Linked DNA regions of Homo sapiens: region 1 is linked to region 2. Evidence: fine-mapped expression QTL. A gene starts in region 2. The other region holds a variant in brackets. All regions are shown on one strand. Distances are from middle to middle.

Region 1 (5,372 bases), 180 kb before region 2:
AACACATATAAAAATGCAAATGCAAATTCATTACAGAAGTGATGCTTCACTTTTAAAAAGAATTCCCCACAGCCCTTCTTTAAATAGACTCTGACACATACAATATAGGATTCAATTTAGAAAAATGATGTTTACTGTAGCTTTTCAGAAACAAATGAATTCCTTAAACCAACATATTCATATACAAATAACGGTCTGACTTCAGACCAGGATGAACCAGAGACACAGATAGAACAGGAGAAGCCAGCTGAGCACAAGGGGCCATCCGTGAGCTCTGGACACACACATACATATGTGCACATGGACACACATGCATAATAAAGGCACACACATGTGTTCACGTGCCCAAGCACATACCCACACACACTCAAACGTGGGCACACACACACATATACACAAGCACATACCTGTATACTCATACATACATATACACACATGTGCACAAGCACATATATGCATACACTCATACATGCTATGTTCACACACATCCCAGGGCTCCAAGCAAAATCACCTTGCCTCCTAATAGAATGTCAAAAGGATAAACATTAATTGGGGAAAAAAAAAGTTTTCACCCCAAAGCCTTTCAAAAACAGACTCAAAGAGAAGGAAGTTGGTCCCTAGCCACTGTGTTCAGCACAGACCCACGCTGGGCTTAGTATTAGCAAAACCGGCCACCAAAATCTTCAGTCTGTGGTTCCCTGCACCTGCAGCTCTGAGCCCTCTGCCTGTCCTCCCCTCCCCCTCCCACCCACCTTAGCCAAATTCTCAGGTTCCTGGGGGGTGGGGAGGAGGTGGGTATTGACTCCAAATCCTACTGGGGAGAATATCCTAATTTAAAGCATCTCTTTTTCCCTTTTTAATTTTATTTTTCTTTTTCTGTCTTCAACCTTAACACATGAATGATCTTAAAGTTTTGATGTTTTTTTCTCGGACTAAACCATTATTTACAGGGGGAGAGGGGGAAGAAAGGCTCTAGAGGGCCTAAAGGGGATAAGGGAGACCAAGGAGCGCCTGGATTAGATGCCCCCTGCCCATTGGTATGTTTTTGTTTATCACTTGCATTGTTCTGGTTTTTGTTCTTGAGGTTTGTAAGTTGGAAACAAAGAAGGCAAATAAACTAAGATGAGAACCAAATGTCTACACGGATGCTACCAAAATCTCTCTGTTCATTTGACTGGTGAAATTCTGCCCGCTGTTGGATTTGCTTTGTAACCACAGCTGCAAGTAATTCTGGCTAAATCCCTTGCCTTTGAATCCTTTTCCTTTGAAGATACAGAGCAATCGATGTGTGGAAGTGAGGAAACCACTAGGAAAGGGATTTTCAGGGAAGGCCTCAGCTCTTAGCTCCAGGATGGCTTTGGAAGCCAGTGTAGCATTTGTGAGCCACGGATTTGCCTTCTTCGTTTCATGGCCACCTCTGTGGGCCAGTAGTTCAAGCTGTCTGAATCCTCACTTGATCAGGATGCAGGACACCAGAGTTAGCGTCTCCTCAGGGCCACTGATGCTCAAAACTGGGCAGAACAAGGCCAGATGAGGGGCTTCTAATGCACAGCCTCCCAACACTCACCAGCCATCCAGCTGAAACCTTTAAAGCTGCAGACCAGAACTGGTAGTCAGACAGACACCCCATGGGAAGCCTTCTCAAAAGAGCCAGCAATTAATGATGAGGCACTTCTGCTGGGTTTCTCAAGTGCCTTTGAATCCATTTGAAGGTTCTAAAAATTATGATGCACTAAAGTTGAAGTTTGTCTGTGTTTACACTAAGTGAGTCTGTAGAGAGAGGAGGATCAACGGAGAGGGGGCAGGTTGTATGTGTGCAAAGCTGAACTCTCCAGAGCACAAAGAGAGCACAAAAGCTGGATTTGGGAGATGGGGGATCACCTGGGATTTAGCCCCTGTTTGTAGATGCCTCAAGGGTCCTGCATCCTGGCCAGGGTAGGACTGGGCCTCTCTATTCCATGGTTGGAGCTGGCCAGCCTTGACCTGAATAATCATCGTGGTTGGTTTTGTGAACAGGGACACCGAGGTTTTAAAGGAGAGAAAGGGGAGCCGGGGTTACCAGGGCTGGACGGACTGGATGCCCCATGCCCATTGGTATGGCATTGCCCTTGCTTGCCTGCATGGCCGATTTGGGCTTCCCCATGTGTGTGATTCATACTGGGTTTCTCCCCAGCCACCCTCCACACTCCTCCTCCATCCCCCCCAGGCTCCACTTCCCACTTCTTCATTCTGTAAA[T/C]GCCAAGGGTCACCCCGCCTAGGCTAGTACTCTGGGGGCTCCCAGTCATGCCACCCTCTTGCATGCAAAGTTTACTGGGATGTTTCCTGGCTTCCTGCTGCAGCTACCTCTAAAGCACAGCCACTTGATGCCAGCCAGCTCTCCCACCCTGAAGTTGGTTTTGGCTGCCTCTGATACTCATCTCCAAGCTGATTCTAGACAAAGCTGCCACCAGATACCAGCTAGGAAAGTGGATTCTCTGGACTGGTTTTCAGAACCATGACTCACTTCTTTTCCTTCAGGCAGTGAAGTTAGTTCAGAATCACTGGCTGAGCACCTAGCGAAACATGTGAATGAGATGCCTGATCAGCCCTGTATCCCCTGCTCCTCCATCACATGATTTGGGGGACAGAAGGGCATGATTACAGAGTAGACTGAGAAGCTCTAGAAGTGAGCTGGAGGAGGGGCCACCTGCCTATTCTTCCAGGTTGGATCGTGGGTCGCTGCCCAGGTGACACCATCAGAACTAGGGGATGGTCCAGGATTAGGTTTTCGGATCCTAAAGGGTTTGTCCTTCTTGCTTAAATCTCCAAAGACATTACCAGACCCTTCCTCGTCCCTTTCTTTCATGATCAGATGGCTTCTTACTGAAGAGTCTGGGAGAGACGGAAAGGTCAAGAATGTAGTTAAGGAGGAGGCAGGGAGACAGCTAAGGACCTCTCTTCCAAGCACGTCCCAGGCGAAGTGGTAGCAGTTTATTCCCGCCTGCCCAGTCCCTCTCTAGGCATGGACAGTCTAGGCCTCCACGCTGATCCTCTTACTGCAAAAGAAGCTGAAGGGAACACTTCACTCCAAGGCTCAAGGGGTTACAGCTCTCCCCAAATTTCCCCAATAGGTTTGGAGTTCAAGAGCTATTTTATCATACCAGTAATAAGAGAATTTGGGGTCTCACATCCCCGCCCTGGGGTCACACAGGAATTCTCTTTGAACAAAAGAGAAAAAGATACAAGAAATTATGCTGTGTGACCCTGAAAGGTGGTCGTAGAGCCCCTTGAAGGGCAGTAGGGACTTTTTAGGAGGAGCATAGGCAACAAAAGGAGAGTGCAGAGCAAGCAGGCGGGTAGCATGCTTCCTGTCCCTGCTGGTCCTGCCAAACCCTGCGCTTGCAGACTGCACAGCCACCTTTCTCAACCAGGACTTCCACCATCCACGCACCAATGGGAATGCCGCTCTGGCCCGCAGGGGCTCCCTTGAGCACTGGCCAGGTCTTCCCTCAGCCACAATCCCCTCCCACAATCTGGGCACCTTTAGTTCTGCCAGCAGCTGCCTTGGCCTCTCTGTTCCTCACCATACATTACTTTTCATTCTCTGCCTGCCCTGCCCTCCATATCCCCCTGCCACCATCCACACACCAATGGGAATGCCGCTCTGGCCCACAGAGGCTCCTCTCCCTCCCGGCATCCATGTGACGTGTGTCATACCGCACCGTGGCAGGCTGGGGAAGGGGCACAGGGTCACCCTGAAACTGTGGAATGCACCTCCTCCCCCTGCAATCCCCTCCCCAACCCAGAGGGGAAAATGAAGGTCACCCTGATTTGACTCTCCATGTAAAATGGCATTTTCTTCCATAACATCCCATATCAATGTGTCAATTTTCTATTAATTTTACTGGGGAAGTGTCTTCCCCTTGTTTCTCACTCTGCCTCCTCCTCTGTGTTATTATGGGCTTGAGGGGCAGGGGTAGCTATTGCTCATGACTTTTACTACAAGATAACCAGACTTCCTAAGCCCTCCATATTGGGACCAATTTCTGCTGAATGCCAGGTGATGAGAGGTTTCAGCCCCTGGCGTGGGTGGATGACGTCAGACCAGGGCAGCAGAGGACTCTCATTCCACAAGCTCCCTCAGGACTGAGCACTTGCTCCGGGTCTCCTGAAGCCCCATGTCCATCTCCTTGTCTGCCCTGCCAGTCTAGCAGACTTGGGCTGAGAACCAGACCTTTGCCCTTGGCCCAGCCTCGCCTTCCCCACTGGGTCTCTAGATTTCTAGATTCCCCATAGGGTATGCCAGCAAGGAGAGGATATGAGGGCCCAAGAAAACTCAGGAAAGTTTCTATCACCAAGGGCAGAACACGAACATCTTGAGGCTAAAGGAGCTGCATGGTTGCTACCAACAAAGGAGACCGACGGTGTGCAGTTGATTCCCATGTTTTTACTGCACTTCACCCCCAAATTCCCAGCAAGGTCTAAGGCTTCGCCAGGAACCCTTGTCTTCTTGCCAAAGGCATGTCAGGGCCATCCTGCAATACTCATGAGGTTGCCTGTCCCTTCATGCCCCTCACCCCACCCCAGGATTAATCATCAAAGAAGGACTGTCTACATGTCCTCCTCCCTGTGCTTAGGAAGAGAGACAAATAAGAGAATGAGAAGGCTGGGAAGGCCCTTAGCGGTCACATCAAGCAACTGTCCTTGCCAAGGTTTTATGGAGGAGGAAACTGAGGCCGCCTTGTGCTGAGTGGCTTACCCGTGAGCAGCCGGCACTCCATAGGGCCACAGCAGAGACTGTTTCTTCGTGGCACGGAAGGACATCTCTGCTTGCTGGTCCCACGGGCTAGGACAGCCCCTATTGACGTTGCACTATAGCTGCATGTGACCTTTAACCAATGGTAAAATAGCCGGATTTGTTTCCACCTCCTTCTGAGGTTCTGACCTGTAGTAGAGAAAAGAAATAGACAAGCGTGGGTGGGCCACATCCTGATCAGCTGCCAAAATGCGTGTGGCCCTTGTTACCCCTGTCCTGCCCACTTGGTGGACCATTGCAGGAAGTCTGAGCCCTCTGCCTTCCTTTCTCCTTGCAGGGCGAAGATGGCTTACCAGTCCAAGGCTGCTGGAACAAGGTAAGGCTTCCCATTGGTGTGCACTGGGGCTCCGTTCTCAGCAGTGCCATAAAGCTTCCACAATTTCCATTCTGCCTTGCTACAGATGAGGCAGCAAGACATAGGTCAAATAGTCACTGTCTCAAAGGCAGGGTGCCCATTAAACATCCCATACACTGCATGCTGTTAACAAACATTTTAAAATGCTTCTTAGAACATCAGTAAACCCTAGGCGGAATGTCCATGCAGCCACACAGGTGACATCTTTATGCTTTGTGTGTT
Region 2 (5,372 bases):
ACAAACCCTGATTGTCCAGGAACCCCTCAGTAACTTTACCTTTGCTCCCTGCCACAACACACATACACACAGACACACACACACACAATCTGATTTACACAAAAATTTGCTCAGTCAATCCTGTTTTCTCTGCCAAGAGCATCCACCCTGATCTCAAGGGTATTATTCCACAATAAGCAGCCCATAGGACTACTGAAAAACCAGGAAGTTACATTTATGCCAAAGCTGTTCAGAGGTTGTGCCTCAGAAGACACACAGCAGGAACCGTGTGGGCTCTGATCAAAGCAAGAATGTCATCCCAGAGTTGCTCCAGTATTGCTTCACAAATATTACAAATAAAACACGATGCTTTTTGAGTCGTCATGGCTCACACAAAGGGTAGGTTTCAACATCAGCCTCTGGAGAGCCACATTCCCAGAGTGGCCGTCCCGGATAAGAAGGCCACTACAGCACGACTCACAGCACCATGGAGGTTTCCTCCACCTGCGGGACACAGCAGGATGGAGACGGTTGGGCGGCCTCCCTTCCTGGGACACTCCATGGCCAGCCCCTCAGGGACTACTTGAAGAACAGAACCCCCAAAAGACCAGTTTCTGAAAAGGGACTCAAAGTCTAAGGGAGGCAGCCTCCTTTTATCCCCAGGGGAGGGCAGCTCTGGGGCAGACAGGTTCATCTGGATGTCATATTCACTCCCGCACAGAAAACCTAGGCCAAGCAATTTGTCCATCCTCCTCAGAGCCAGTTTTGTGGTCCCCATGGTCTGCCCACCACCTGTACCTGGACGCTGGCTTCATTTGGCCACCAGACAAAAGTCAGGCTGGCCCTGGAGTCCACCGGCCTGCCCAGCCCATCACTTCTGGGCTAGGTAGTGCTAAGCCTGCCCAGCCCACCCTGGCTGGGGCTCAGTGCCCTCTTCTTGGTGACACACTGTGCTCCTTGGAGAACTCCTCTCTAGGTGCTGGGGTGAGGGCAGGTGTGATCTGAGATCCCGGGGCTCTCTGGCAGGTGCATGCACGCACACTGGAACCTGATACAGGCTTTTGAACACAGGTGCACAGTCCAGAAACCTGCAAGTCCCATCCCAAACTATATCTGACTCTCTGCCCTATGCCTGTCCTCCTACAGGATCATCAGCCCCCAAGAGACCTCACCACTCCCCATCCTCACCTTAAATTCCAGGGTCAAAAAGACTCTCCTTGTAGGGAAAGGTAGGGTGTGTTGATCAGGTGGTGTTGGAAGGAGAGCCCCAATATAGGCCACTAATTCAGTTCCAGGTGGACTGCACGCGTCCCATCAGAGTTAGTTTACTCACCGCTGGTCTTTGTCCCTGCAGCACCCAGGGCTTCGGGAAGGGAGAAGCAGACTTCCTAGTGCTGCACCCCCCAGCTCCCCCGAGCCTATGGGCACTGGGTTGACTCCAGTTTCTTTCCTCTTAGAGACTGAGGTTTCTCCCTTTCCTCTCACACCTGCTTCTGTCCGGACCGGCCGCTTCTACCCAGCGGACCCTCGGACGGTCCTCGCAAGATCCGGGTTACACCCGCCCCGTGTTCCCTCTTCCCCGGTTCGCCCTTCCCGGCCTAAGCCCATCTTCCTTAGGAAAACTTAGCAGGGATTTAGGGGCCAAACCAGGAGGGTGGAGTTTTCTTTGCCCTCGGCCAGGAGCACATCTCCCTGTTGCGTTTTTTGGGGGAGACAGAGAGGGGCGGGCCTGAGTCGAGTATCCCTCTCCTCGCAGCGCCACAACTGCGCGCACCGACCTCCCCACGCCAGACGCGGCGTGAGCCAGGCCTCTAATCCGCTCGCCCCTCTTCCGGGTCCCGGTCCCGCCCGGGGCGCCCGGGGTCTCGAGAGCCCGCCTGGCGGCGCGATCTCACCTGTCGGCCGCGCCCGCGCGCTCTCGCTCCGGCTCCCGCTCCCGCTCCCGCTCCCGCTTGGTCGTCTTCCCGAGTTACTGACCCGAGGCGCTCCCGGGCGGGGCGTGACTCAGCACTCGTGCTGGTCCCCGACCCCGCGGCAACGCCCCGGCCAGGCCCCGGAAACGGTCCTGGCACGCTGGGGCTGGTCTCCGAACGGCCCGCCGGACTAACCTTGACCCTGAGCGAACGGCCTTGAACTTTGAAACAAATGCTCCCATGGCCAGATGTCGCCTCTCCGGCTCCTGCCAGCACCCGCGCCCCAGTCCTGCCGAGCCATTCAGACTTGGTTTAAAGTGTCCTTTCAGCATACTTTAAAGCAAAAAAGAGAGAGAGAGAGAGAGAGAGAGAGAGAGAGAGAGAGAGAGAGAGAGAGAGAGAGAGAAGGAAGGAAGGAAAACAAGCATCCCCCTGTTCCTCTGATTTTCTCGAGGACACCTTTAAAGCCACTGGAACCTTGGAGAGTGGGGTTCCCCTCACACGTTGGGCGCACTGCCAACATCCTTCCTTCAGACATACACATAATAATTCCGCAAACCCTGTTGAGCTCCTACATTTGCCAGGCACTGTGCTAGGCGTTGGAGGGATAACTTGGAGAGAAAACTGACAAGGTTCCTGCTTTCACGGAGGCGACAGTCTGGGAAAAGACAGATATTAAACACACCACCAAAAAATACATGTATAGAGAAAACAAAAACCATGTATCACCAACTGCAGTAAGAAAGATTGGGCATGGCCAGGCACGGTGGCTCATGCCTACAGTCCCAGCACTTAGGGAGGCCAAGGCGGGAGGATCGTTTGAGCCCAGGAGTTGGAGACCAGCCTGGGCAACATAGCGAGACCTACAAAAATTAGCCGGGCTTGTTGGTGCACACCTGTAGTCCCAGCTTCTCGGGAAGCTGAGGTGGGAGGATTGCTTGAGCCCAGGAGTTTGAGGCTACAGTGAACCATGATCATTCCACTGCACTCCAGCCTAGGTGACTGTGAGATTCTGTCTCAAAAAAAAAATAATAATAATAATAATAATAAATGAAATGAAATGAAAAAATAAAAAAGAAAGACTGAGGGCAAAGGAAGGGTGCAAATACTTCTCTCCAAGGATGAGAAAGAGGTAGATTTAGGTAAAGAGGAAGGAAGTGTGGTCTGGATGTGCAAAGACCCACAGGCAGGACAATGACCTGGAAGGCAGTGTATTGCCAGCTCAAATCAGACCAAGCTAACTCAGCGAAAGATAAGCCATCTCCATCTACTTACTGCAAATATTAGCACCTACTTTAAGAGTTGTGGATAAGGGCCAGGCACGGTGGCTCACGTCTGTAATCCGAGCACTTTGGGAGGCCGAGGTGGGTGGATCACCTGAGGTCAGGAGTTCGAGACCAGCCTGGCAAACATGGTAAAACACTGTCTCTACAAAAAATTAGCCTGGCATGGTGGCACATGCCTGTAGTCCCAACTACTCAGGAGGCTGAGGCAGGAGATTCACTTGAACCAGGAAGGCAGAGGTTGCAGTGAGCGGAGGTCATGCCATTGCACTCCAGCCTGGGCAACAAGAGCGAAACTCCATCTCTAAAAAAAGAAAAAAAGAGTTGTGGAAAGGCCTCAATGAGATCATTTTTATAAAGTGTTTTAACATGGTGCCTGGCACACAGTAGCAATGAATACACAGCAGCCATTTATTATAGATATTTTATATTGCAGATTATTTTGCCCAAGGCAACCAGAATGATTTATTTTTGATGAAAAATCCTACTCATCGTCTTAGAAAAACAATAAGCTAATATTTATTGATCACGAACTAAGTGCTTTGAATGACTTCTCAAGTTTTTTTGTTTGTTTTTGTTTTTTTCACAAAGGTCCTGCAAGGTAAGTTTTATTAATCTCCATTTTGCAGATAAGGAAATTTAGGCTCCTAGAGGCTAAAGAATTTAGGCAAGGTCCCTCAGCTAGTAAAGCAAGGGGGTGGGCCTACAATGGAGGTCTGAACCATGACCCCTTTTTGGGGGGTAGGGGGACGAATCTGGCTCTGTCGCTTAGGCTGGAGTGCAGTGGCATGCTCTCGGCTCACTGAAGCCTCCACCTTCCAGGCTCAAGCGATTCTCATGCCTCAGCCTCCCAAGCAGCTGGAATTACAGGCACCTGCCACCACACCCGGCTATAGTAGAAACGGGGTTTCACCATGTTGGCCAGGCTAGTCTCAAACTCCTGGCCTCAAGTGATCTGCCCACCTCGGCCTCCCAAAGTGCTGGGATTACAGGTGTGAGCCACTGAGCCCAGCCTGAACCATGACCTTAAAGCCAGGAAACCCCTCAGCAAGCATCATCCCTAAGGAGCCAGAGGGCACTGCTCAGGCAAAGCAGAATCTCAGTTGTGGGGAATTTACTGGGCATGTACCCAGTAAGATGTGACACAGAGAGGTGAACAGAGAGGCTACAGCCTGCCCACTGCACGGAATCAGCCCTGAGGCTTGGGATGGTCATGGAAGGCTTTGTGTAGAAGGTAGGCGTGCAAGGATGAAGGGGATGCCAGCTGGCAGGATGCAAGGAAAGGACTCCAGAAAGAGCAGGACAAAGATAAAGCTGGAAGAGAGGCGAGAGAGGTGTGAGGTGGCCCAACACTGGGCTCAGGTGTGCCAGGGCTGGTGTGGCCCATCTCTAAGGACCTGTCCCAAACCATGAAAAACTTTTTTTTTTTCCTTAAGACCTGCTACAAAGCAACAAACCATGAAAATCAAGGAATTTTTCTGATTATCACTCAATACTTTCTTGGCAACCAGAAGACACCTCCATCCAGGAGAGGGGACATGGTCTCATGCAACCCCTCCAGGTAGCTCACTGCACACCACTCCTCTGGTCCCACTCAGCAGTGCCCATAGCTTTGGAACTGAAAATCAGGGCTCGCTGCCTAAAAAAGGGGTTTTGTCTCTGAAATTCCAAGTGCCAGAGGTAGCAGGAAAGTGCGGTGGTTAGGATCCTGAAAAAGTGGCAAGTTCATTCCATGGAACTTTGACGGTTAGTGGGGAGAGCAGGCAGATTGTCTAACATGACGGAATCTAAGAGGAGGAAGCGTTGCTGGCTCTCTGCTGTAATGAGCTCAGCCAGGCCTGTGGGTACTTCCTTACAGACAACAGGTGGCTTTTCTGCTGGCTCCCAGGGCTGGAGGAGCTCCAAGGTACTGGGTCATCTCAGGAGCCCAGAGAAACAGAGGCAGTATGCCCACTCGAAGAACAGGCAACTCTTAGATCTGAAGAGCCTGGTAAATGTTCTCCTTTTCCATACGTAGTTCCAACGAAATTTGTAAGCTTCAAAGAAGAGAGGAATATCCTCGTTTCTTCCTCTCTCCCCCAACACATGATTTGGTATAGTGTTCCCAGCTAGGGAGAGGCTATATTAATGAAGGTAAGTTCTGCTGCAATGACCAATAGATTCCAAATGTAATGGCTCAAATACAACAGAAGTGCAC

Which allele goes with the higher level. Positions count from the first base shown, and alleles are read on the strand shown. Sizes are in standard deviations (SD) of each study's normalised expression.
With allele C in place of T in region 1, the expression in macrophages of the gene that starts at base 1,966 in region 2 is lower (small effect, 0.39 SD a copy in Nedelec 2016).

Evidence for each region.
Region 1: its variant is fine-mapped to the expression of AIFM2 in macrophages (Nedelec 2016, PIP 0.95).

What each region holds. Positions count from the first base shown.
Region 1 is chr10:69,951,932-69,957,303 of GRCh38, forward strand. COL13A1 (collagen type XIII alpha 1 chain) reads left to right here. Exons shown (of 41, transcript NM_001368882.1): 39 at 951-1,037; 40 at 5,073-5,111. It overlaps LOC107984242 (a long non-coding RNA gene), which reads right to left. Exons shown (of 4, transcript XR_007062181.1): 3 at 4,739-4,924; 4 at 2,964-3,047. Among named protein-coding and RNA genes, the nearest start is that of LINC02636, 55 kb to the right of the region's middle. RefSeq lists a silencer at 4,888-4,957. The variant T/C (reference allele first, on the strand shown) is at 2,237.
Region 2 is chr10:70,130,860-70,136,231 of GRCh38, forward strand. It overlaps AIFM2 (AIF family member 2), which reads right to left and starts at 1,966. Exons shown (of 9, transcript NM_032797.6): 1 at 1,875-1,966. RefSeq lists an enhancer at 1,757-2,257 and silencers at 1,779-1,988, 1,821-2,140.